Linked DNA regions of Homo sapiens: region 1 is linked to region 2. The links come from fine-mapping of genetic effects on gene expression. A gene starts in region 2. The other region holds a variant in brackets. All regions are shown on one strand. Distances are from middle to middle. Region 1 overlaps DYNC2I1 (dynein 2 intermediate chain 1). Region 2 holds the start of DYNC2I1 (dynein 2 intermediate chain 1).

Region 1 (4,000 bases), 44 kb before region 2:
ATTATCCCTCATACTGAACAAAACATGACACTTTATAACTTAAAACAGACAATGTCCTTATTACAGCTAAGAAAGATATTTATAGTTCCCTGATTTTAATGTTTTTGAAGGTAAATTTATATAAACTGCTACCTTTATTTCTCTAAAAATAAATCACACAATACAGAACCATATACAGAAGACCTATCAACTATCATCACGTGCAAACATTTGTGCTGAGAATGTGAAAGTGTATGTATTTTTATAGATACCTATGTATACATCTTTTTATGCACTGCACTTAAATATGAGTTAAATTATAAAATCATTTAATTACATCATATTGGTAAGTATTAGTAGAAGTATAGCAAGCATTTTACAGGTAACAGCTTGACCTAAATCAACCTAGCCAGATATTGAGTATTAGGATTAATAAAAAGAATAAAAAGGACATCAAATTACTATATATAAGCTGATTTTTAAGAATAAATGATTTTTAAGCTAAGGAAAGTTTTAACTTTTATACATACTTCAAAATCATCTTCACAACTGGCTGTATATGCATCAGCTCTAGCATTTTCTAAATCAGTTTCTTCCTTTTCAATTTCCTAGAGGTAAAAATCAAACACAAAACCAAAAAATTCAATCATAAAATTGAATATTGCAAATAGATTGGGAAAACATATATGTTTTCTGACATTCCTTTGATGTTGCTAATTTTAAACTCTAGGTATTTGTAAAACTAATATAATGTTAAATTCCTTTAAGAAATACCCTTGCTAACTTACAGGTAGGACCAAAAAGAGAAAACAGTAAACATCCTTTTTGGGAAACCTCTATAATTCTGGTGGCTAAAAATTTTTTAAGTGTTTTACAAATAAACTTCAAATGTGCAGCAATCCATTTCTTATCCATGAATATATTCCCCGCTGAATGGTGCTCAGCTTATCTACACCATTAAAGACAGTGTAGCTGTAGTGAGCACTGTGGCTCACACCTTTAATCCCAGCACTTTGGGAGGTCAAGGCAGGCAGATTACTTGAACTCAGGAGCTGAAGACCAGCGTGGGCAACATGGCGAAACCGCATCTCTACCAAAAATACAAAAAATTAGCTGGGCATGGTGGTGTGCACCTGTGTTCCCAGCTACTCCAGAGGCTGAGGTGAGAGGACTGCTTGAGCCTGGGAGGCAGACGTTGCAGTGAGCCAAGATCGCGCCACTGCACAATCAAGAAGATATTACAAAGCATACTAGAAAGCAGAAAATACAGTTTGAAGAGACAGAGCAAGCACCAGTTCCAGACATGGCAGGGATGTTGGAATTATCAGAACAGGAACTTAAAACAACTATGAGGACATCCTAAGAGCTCTAATAGACAAAGTTGATAGCAGGCAAGCAGAGAGATGGAAAGTCTAAGAAAGAACCAGAAAGGAAAGTTCGAGGTCAAAAACAACAAAACAACAGAAACAGAAGTGAAGAACAACTTTGATGGGCTCATTAGTAAACTGGACAGAGCTGAAGAAAAGTCTCTGTGCTTGATGATACCTCAATAGAAACCCCCAAAACTGAAAAGCAAAGAGAACAAAAAGCGGGAAGGAAAAAAAAAAAAAAAAAACAGAACAAAATATCCAAGAACTGTGGGACAACTGCAAAAGGTATTCACATGTATAATGGGGATGGCAGAAGAAGAGAGAAAGGAACAGAATACTTGATACAATAATGACTGAGAATTTCTCCAAACTGATGTCAGACACCAAACCACGCATCCAGGAAGCTCATAGAACACCAAGATCAATATCAAAACATCTACACCTAGGCATCTTATATTCAAACTACAGAAAAATCACAGATAAGGACAAAATCCTGAAAGAAGCCAGATGGGGAAAAAACACTTTATCTACTGAGGAACATAGATAAGAATTACAGGCTGGGCGCGGTGGCTCACACCTATAATCCCAGCACTTTGGGAGGCCGAGGCAGGTGGATCATCTGAGGTCAGGAGTTCAAGACCAGCCTGACTAACATGGTGAAACCCCATCTCTACTAAAAACATAAAAATTAGCTGGGCGTGGTGGCACTTGCCTGTAACCCCAGCTACTTGGGAGGCTGAAGCAGGAGAATCACTTGAACCTGGGAGGCAGAGGTTGCAGCGAGCTGAGATCGCACCATTGCACTCCAGCCTGGGCAATGACAGCAAAACTCTGTCTCAAAAAGAAAAAAAAAAAAAAAAGAATTACATTCAGTTTCTCAGATACCATGCAAGCAAGAAGACAGCATA[G/C]AGAAATGTTTAAAGTACTGAGAGAAAAATATTCAGCAGCCCAAAATTACACATATACTCTATAAAATTATGCTTCCAAAGTGAAGGAGAAATAAAGACTTTCAAACAAAATTGAGGGAATTTGTTGCCAGTAGACCTGTCTTGCAAGCAACATAAAAAGAAGTTCTTCAGAAAGAAGGTGTATTAGTCCGTTTTCACACTGCTGATAAAGACATAACCGAGACTGGGAAGAAAAAGAGGTTTCATTGGACTTACAGTTCCACATGGCTGGGGAGGCCTCAGAATCATGGCAGGAGGCAAAAGGCACTTCTTGAACGTGGTGGCAGGAAGAGAAAATGAGGAAGAGGCAAAAGCAGAAACCCCTGATAAACCCATCAGATCTCATGAGATGTATTCACTATCACGAGAATAGCATGGGAAAGACCAGGCCCCATGATTCAATTACCTCCCCCTGGGTCCCTCCCACAACATGTGGGAATTCTGGGAGATAAACTCAAGTTGAGATTTGGGTGGGGACACAGCCAAACCGTTATCAGAAGGAAAATAATATAGGTCAGAAACTTGGGTCTATATAAAAAAAAGAAAAGATGGAAGAAGAAATAAGTAAAGGGAAATAACTCTTCCTTTTCTTTTCCTTAATTGATCTAACAGATAACAGTTTGTTCAGAATAATAGTAGCAAAAATGTATTCAATTACGTATGCTTAGGTATTTATCCGTGTGTGTGTATGTGTGTTTGTGTACACATATGCATAGTTAGCCCTCCTTATCTGTGGGTTCCACATCCATGGATTCAACCAACCACAGACCAAAAATATTTGGAAAAATAAAAATAAAAAATAATACAAATTTTAAAATACAGTATAACAACTATTTACATAGCATTTACATTGTATTAGGTTTTATAAGCAATCTAGAGATGACTTAAAATACATGGGAGAACATGCATAGGTTATATGCAAATCCTATGCCATTTTACTTAAGGAACTTGAGCGTTTGCAGATTTTAGTATCCACAGGGGGTCCAGGAACCAATCCTGTTCCAATACCAAGGGATAACATGCTTATGTCTGCTTATACACAAGTAAAATGAATGACAGCAAGGATACAAGGAATGGGAGTGATACAGTCTTATTCAAAAGTGGACTTGTATTGGTTGTAAATGTATTTAAACCACTTTAAAAAGTTAAAAAAAAAAAACAACCTTTAACTGATATGCTAAGAAAGGAGAGAAAATAGAATCATAAGATGTTCTATTAAAACCACAGAAGGCAAAAAAAGAATGAAAGACAAAAACAGGAACAAATAACAAGGGCAACAAATAAAAAATAGTAACAAATATGGCAGATACTAATCCAATATATCAATAATTACTTTGAACATCAATGATCTAAATGTACCAATCACAAGACAGAGATTGTCAGAGAGGATCAAAAAACAAGATCCATCTACTTATTGTCTTCAGGAAACCCAAATGAAGAAAAATATACCATGCTCACACTAATCAAAAGAAAGCAAAAGTCATTATATTAATTTCTGACGCAGCACACTTCAAAGTAAAGAGAGTCAACATGAATAAAGAAGGGCATTACACAATGATAAAGATGCCAATTTTATGTCTTTAATGAAAGACATAACAATCCTTAATATGTGTGAGGGTCAAATTATTTAAGTCAAAAACTAATAGAAGTGCAAGAAGAAATAGATGAATCCACTATTACAGCTGGAGACTTCAACATCCCTCT
Region 2 (4,468 bases):
AATCCCAGCACTTTGGGAGGCCAAGGCGGGCGGATCACCGGAGGTCAGGAGTTCGAGACCAGCCTGACCAACATGGAGAAACCCCATCCCTACTAAAAATACAAAAATTAGCCAGGCATAGTGGCACCTGCCTGTAATCCCAGCTACTCGGGAGGCTGAGGCAGGAGAATCGCTGGAACCCAGGAGTTGGAGGTTGCGGTGAGTAGAGATCGTGCCACTGTACTCCAGCCTGGGCGACAAGGGGAATTATCTTTAAAAAAAAAAAAAAAAAAAGGCCGGGTGCAGTGGCTCACGAAGTCAGGAGATCAAGACCATCCTGGCCAACACGGTGAAACCTCATCTCTACTAAAAATACAAAAATCAGCTGGGCTTGGTGGCGGACATCTGTAATCCCACCTACTCGGGAGACTGAGGCAGGAGAATCTCTTGAACCCTGGAGTCGGAGGTTGCAGTAAGCCAAGTTCGTGCCATTGCATTCCAGCCTGGTGACAGAGTGAGACTCCATCTCAAAAAAAAAAAAAAAACAAAAACCTAAGGTTTATATAACATAAAATACAAATTAAGGAGTATTATTCAACACATAAAGGTAAGTGATGGGGAAAAAATAATAGGAGTGAAGGTAGAAGAAAATGTATGCAAATTAAATTCCTCATCTTTCAGTGGGGAATCAATAGATAAGAATAATACAGTAATATCTAACATTTATTGAGTGTTAATGAAAGCAGGCACTGGTCTATGCACTTTTACACATAATATCTCACTTAACCTTCTTAAACACCCTATAATGTTGCTATTATTATTGTGCCCATTGAATGAATTAGGAAACAAGACATGTTAAGTGAGTTTGCCAAGGTCATACAAGTAAATACAAAATCCTGAATTCAAACTCAAGCACCCAGGCTGCACTCTCTCAACCTCTTAAACTGTGACAAGTCATATTTAAACTTAAGTCAGCTAAAATTTAATAAACTTTTAAATATGTCTCCTCAGCCACCCCGGCCCCGCAGCAGGGGCCGAGGCCGCCTCCAGGCCGGGCGCGAGGAGACGGGCCGCGGCGGCGACCCCAGGCCTGAGGCTGCACAGACCGCCTCTCCCGACCGCCGGGAGCCCGGCGTCCTGCCATCCCTCGCGCCGACGGCCAGCCGCGCCTCCGTTTCCCTTCCTGCCTCGGAGGCACCGCGGCTCCTCCGGGAAGCCCCGGCCCGGCCGAGAGAACCGCTGCGCAAAGGGAGGGCGGCGGCGGCGCTGCTAGCGGCGCCCGAAGGAGTCCGCGAAGCTCGACCACCCCTCGCCCAGACCCAGCGCCGCACCGACCTTCCCGGGCTCCATCGCTTCCCGCAGGCCCGGGCGGCCGCGGTGTCCTCGGCCCCGGCCAGGCGCGGTCCACCCCGAAGAGGCCACCTGTGCCCCGCACCCTTCGGGAGGCGCGTCCCAGCGCCTAGCAACCGACAAGCAGGAGCAGCAGAGGGCCCAGAAGCACTGCCCAGCGTGCCCTGCGGCCTCTCCCAGTGCGCCTGCGCATCCCCGGCATTTTTAGCACCTGGCAGGCAGGAGCAGGGGAAGGCCGAGTGGTCGCTGCTCGGCGTGCCCGCGGCCCCTCCCAATGCGCCTGCGCTTCCCCGGCTCCTAGCAACCGCCAGGCAGGAGCAGCAGAGGACCGAGCGGTCGTTGGTCTCCCCAAGGGGTAGGTGCAGTACCCTGACTTGGGGTGCAGGGGCTCTTGACTCGCCCCAACCCGCCCCGGGTTCCCACGGGACCGGACTGACAGTCGGGGAAGATAGAAAGGGAGAGCAGATATTGAAAAGAGCTTTACGTTTGAGGCCGAGCGCGGTGGCTCACCCCTGTAATCCCAGCACTTTGGGAGGCGGAGGCGGGTGGATCATGAGGTCAGGAGATCGAGACCATCCTGGCTAACACGGTGAAACCCCGTCTCTACTAAAAATACAAAAAAAAAAAATAGCTGGGCGCAGTAGCAGGCGCCTGTAGTCCCAGCTACTCGGGAGGCTGAGGCAGAAGGATGGCGTGAACCTGGGAGACGGAGCTTGCAGTGAGCGGAGATCACGCCACTGCACTCCAACCTGGGCGACAGAGCGAGACTCTGTCTCAAAAAAAAAAAAAAAAAAAAGAAAAGAGCTTTACATTTGAATAAGGCTTTGCACTTAACAAATTATATTCCCATATGTCGTCTTTTGATAAAAACAAGCAGTAAGGTAGGCAGGAATCAACGTTGAGAGACTGTTTTTATACAACACGTAAGGGAAAATCAAAAACTCTCAGGACCTCCGAACTCCTTCAGCCAAAGGGAAAGTTAGGGCTGAAAGCCTGAAACCGCCTTTTCAAAATTATGACTGAGGCAGTAAAAGAGGTGTAACTTAACCCACAGCATCTTGCTTCTGACCTCCAAGCTGTGCTTGTTCCTTCCTGGCAGTAGGCTGAACTAACTTTGGGAGAAACTTAGTTTATATTTTATAATTTAAACACAGACGGTAACAGCCCTTTCCCAAAGCAGGCCTTCTTGCCTGGGGACTTGATTGCCTTTGTAGGACTGATGTTAGCCACAAGATTAGAAATTACGTTTTAGGAGTAGTTTCTAATATGCAGCTGGAGGCTACAATATTCTGACCCTCCCTAAACTGCTCCTAAGATCAGTGCTTGAGATATTTTGCAGAACCTGCACTTGATGGATCAGCTGGCACCACCCAGATCAATAAACTGGCTCATCAGATCTTGTGGCCCCTCACCCAGGAACTGATAAGGGCAAGAAGACCGCTTTGACTCCCTATGATTTCATCTCTGACCAATCAGCACTCCTGGCTCACTGGCTTCCCCCCACCCAAGTTATCCTTGAAAACTCTGATCCCTGAATGCTTCAATGCTCAAGGAGATGGATTTGAGTAATAATAAAACTCTAGTCTCCTGCACAGCCAGCTCTGTGTAAATTACTCTTTCTCTATTGCAATTCCCCCATCTCGATAGGCTCTGTCTAGGCAGCGGGCAAGGTGAACCCCTTGGGTGGTTGCAAGCCGAGTCGCCCAACACCCTCTTCCAAATGCACAGCTGTTGCTTTGCAGGCTGCAAGGCTCCTGCCAGCCAGGCCCCCGTGAAGGCAGGGCCGGGCACCTTGGCCCCCACCAGTCTCCCAGGTGTAAATGTTTTGCCAGCCTGGAGACCTTTCAAGATGTGTGTCCTCACTTAAACAAAGACACGCCAATTGTAACTTTAGATCTGCAACTTAAGTCTGAAACTACCTCTGCAAGAATTAGAACTGAGAAAATTATGACAGTGAAAGAGATCTAACCTGACTCCATCTTGCTTCTAACCTCCAAGCTGTCCTTGTCCATTCCTGGTCGTAGAATAGTTTAACTTTGAAAGAAAGATAACAGCCCTTTCCCAAAACAAACCCCCTTCTCTTTTTTTATTATTATTATACTTTAAGTTCTGGGGTACATGTGCAGAACGTGCAGGTTTGTTACATAGGTATACACATGCCACGGTGGTTTGCGACACCCATCAACCCGTCATCTACATTAGGTATTTCTCCTAATGCTATCCCCCAGCCCCCCCCGACAGACCCCCACGTGTGATGTTCCTCTCCCTGTGTCCATGTGTTCTCATTGTTCAACTCCCACTTATGAGTGAGAACATGCGGTGTTTGGTTTTCTGTTCTTGTGATAGTTTGCTGAGAATGATGCAAACCCTCTTCTTGCTGGGGACTAGATGGCCTTTGGAGGACTAACAAATTAGCCATGAGATTAGAAATTATGGTTTAGGAGTCATGCAGCTAAAGGCCACAAGATTCTAAACCTCCTCAATTACTCCTAGGGATAATATCACTATTGTAAAACCTAAGATTGGTGCTTGAGACATTTTTCAGTCCCTTCACTCAATGGGTCGGCTGGTGCAACCCAGATGGATAAACTGGCTCATCTGGTCTTGTGACCCCCACTTAGGAACTGACTCAGCGCAAGAAGACAGCTTGGATTCCCTGATTTCATCTCCAATCCTACCAATCAGCACTCCCCACTTCTCAACGCCCCCCCACCCACTAAATTATCCTTCAAACTCCAATCCTCAAATTTTGGGGGACACTGATTTGAGCAATAATAAAACTCCACTGGGCATGGTGGCTCATGCCTGTAATCCCAGCACTTTGGGAGGCTGAGGCAGGCAGATCACCTGAGGTCGGGAGTTTGAGACCAGCCTGACCAACATGGAGAAAGCCCGTCTCTACTAAAAATACAAAATTAGCTGGGTGTGGTGGTACATGCCTGTAATCCCAGCTACTTGGGGGCTGAGGCAGGAGACTCTCTTGAACCCAGGAGTGGGAGGTTGCAGTGAGCCAAGATCGCGCCACTGCACTCCAGCCTGGGCAACAAGAGCAAAACTCCATCTAAAAAAAAAAAAAAAAACCTCTGGTCTCCCATACAGCCGGCTCTGCGTGAATTAAATTCTTTCTCTATTGCAATTT

The links. PIP is the estimated chance that this variant, and not a neighbour inherited with it, causes the effect. A credible set is the group of variants that fine-mapping cannot tell apart.
Region 1: its variant is the best candidate, but not a certain one, in a credible set for the expression of DYNC2I1 in unexposed skin (GTEx, PIP 0.69).

Annotation. Positions count from the first base shown.
Region 1 is chr7:158,898,326-158,902,325 of GRCh38, reverse strand. DYNC2I1 (dynein 2 intermediate chain 1) reads right to left here. Exons shown (of 25, transcript NM_018051.5): 9 at 510-587. Among named protein-coding and RNA genes, the nearest start is that of DYNC2I1, 44 kb to the right of the region's middle. The variant G/C (reference allele first, on the strand shown) is at 2,258.
Region 2 is chr7:158,853,597-158,858,064 of GRCh38, reverse strand. DYNC2I1 (dynein 2 intermediate chain 1) reads right to left here and starts at 1,507. Exons shown (of 25, transcript NM_018051.5): 1 at 1,315-1,507. The coding sequence starts at 1,329. LOC124901796 (a long non-coding RNA gene) reads left to right here and starts at 1,543. Exons shown (of 2, transcript XR_007060627.1): 1 at 1,543-1,684; 2 at 2,669-2,927. RefSeq lists an enhancer at 90-631 and a silencer at 982-1,451.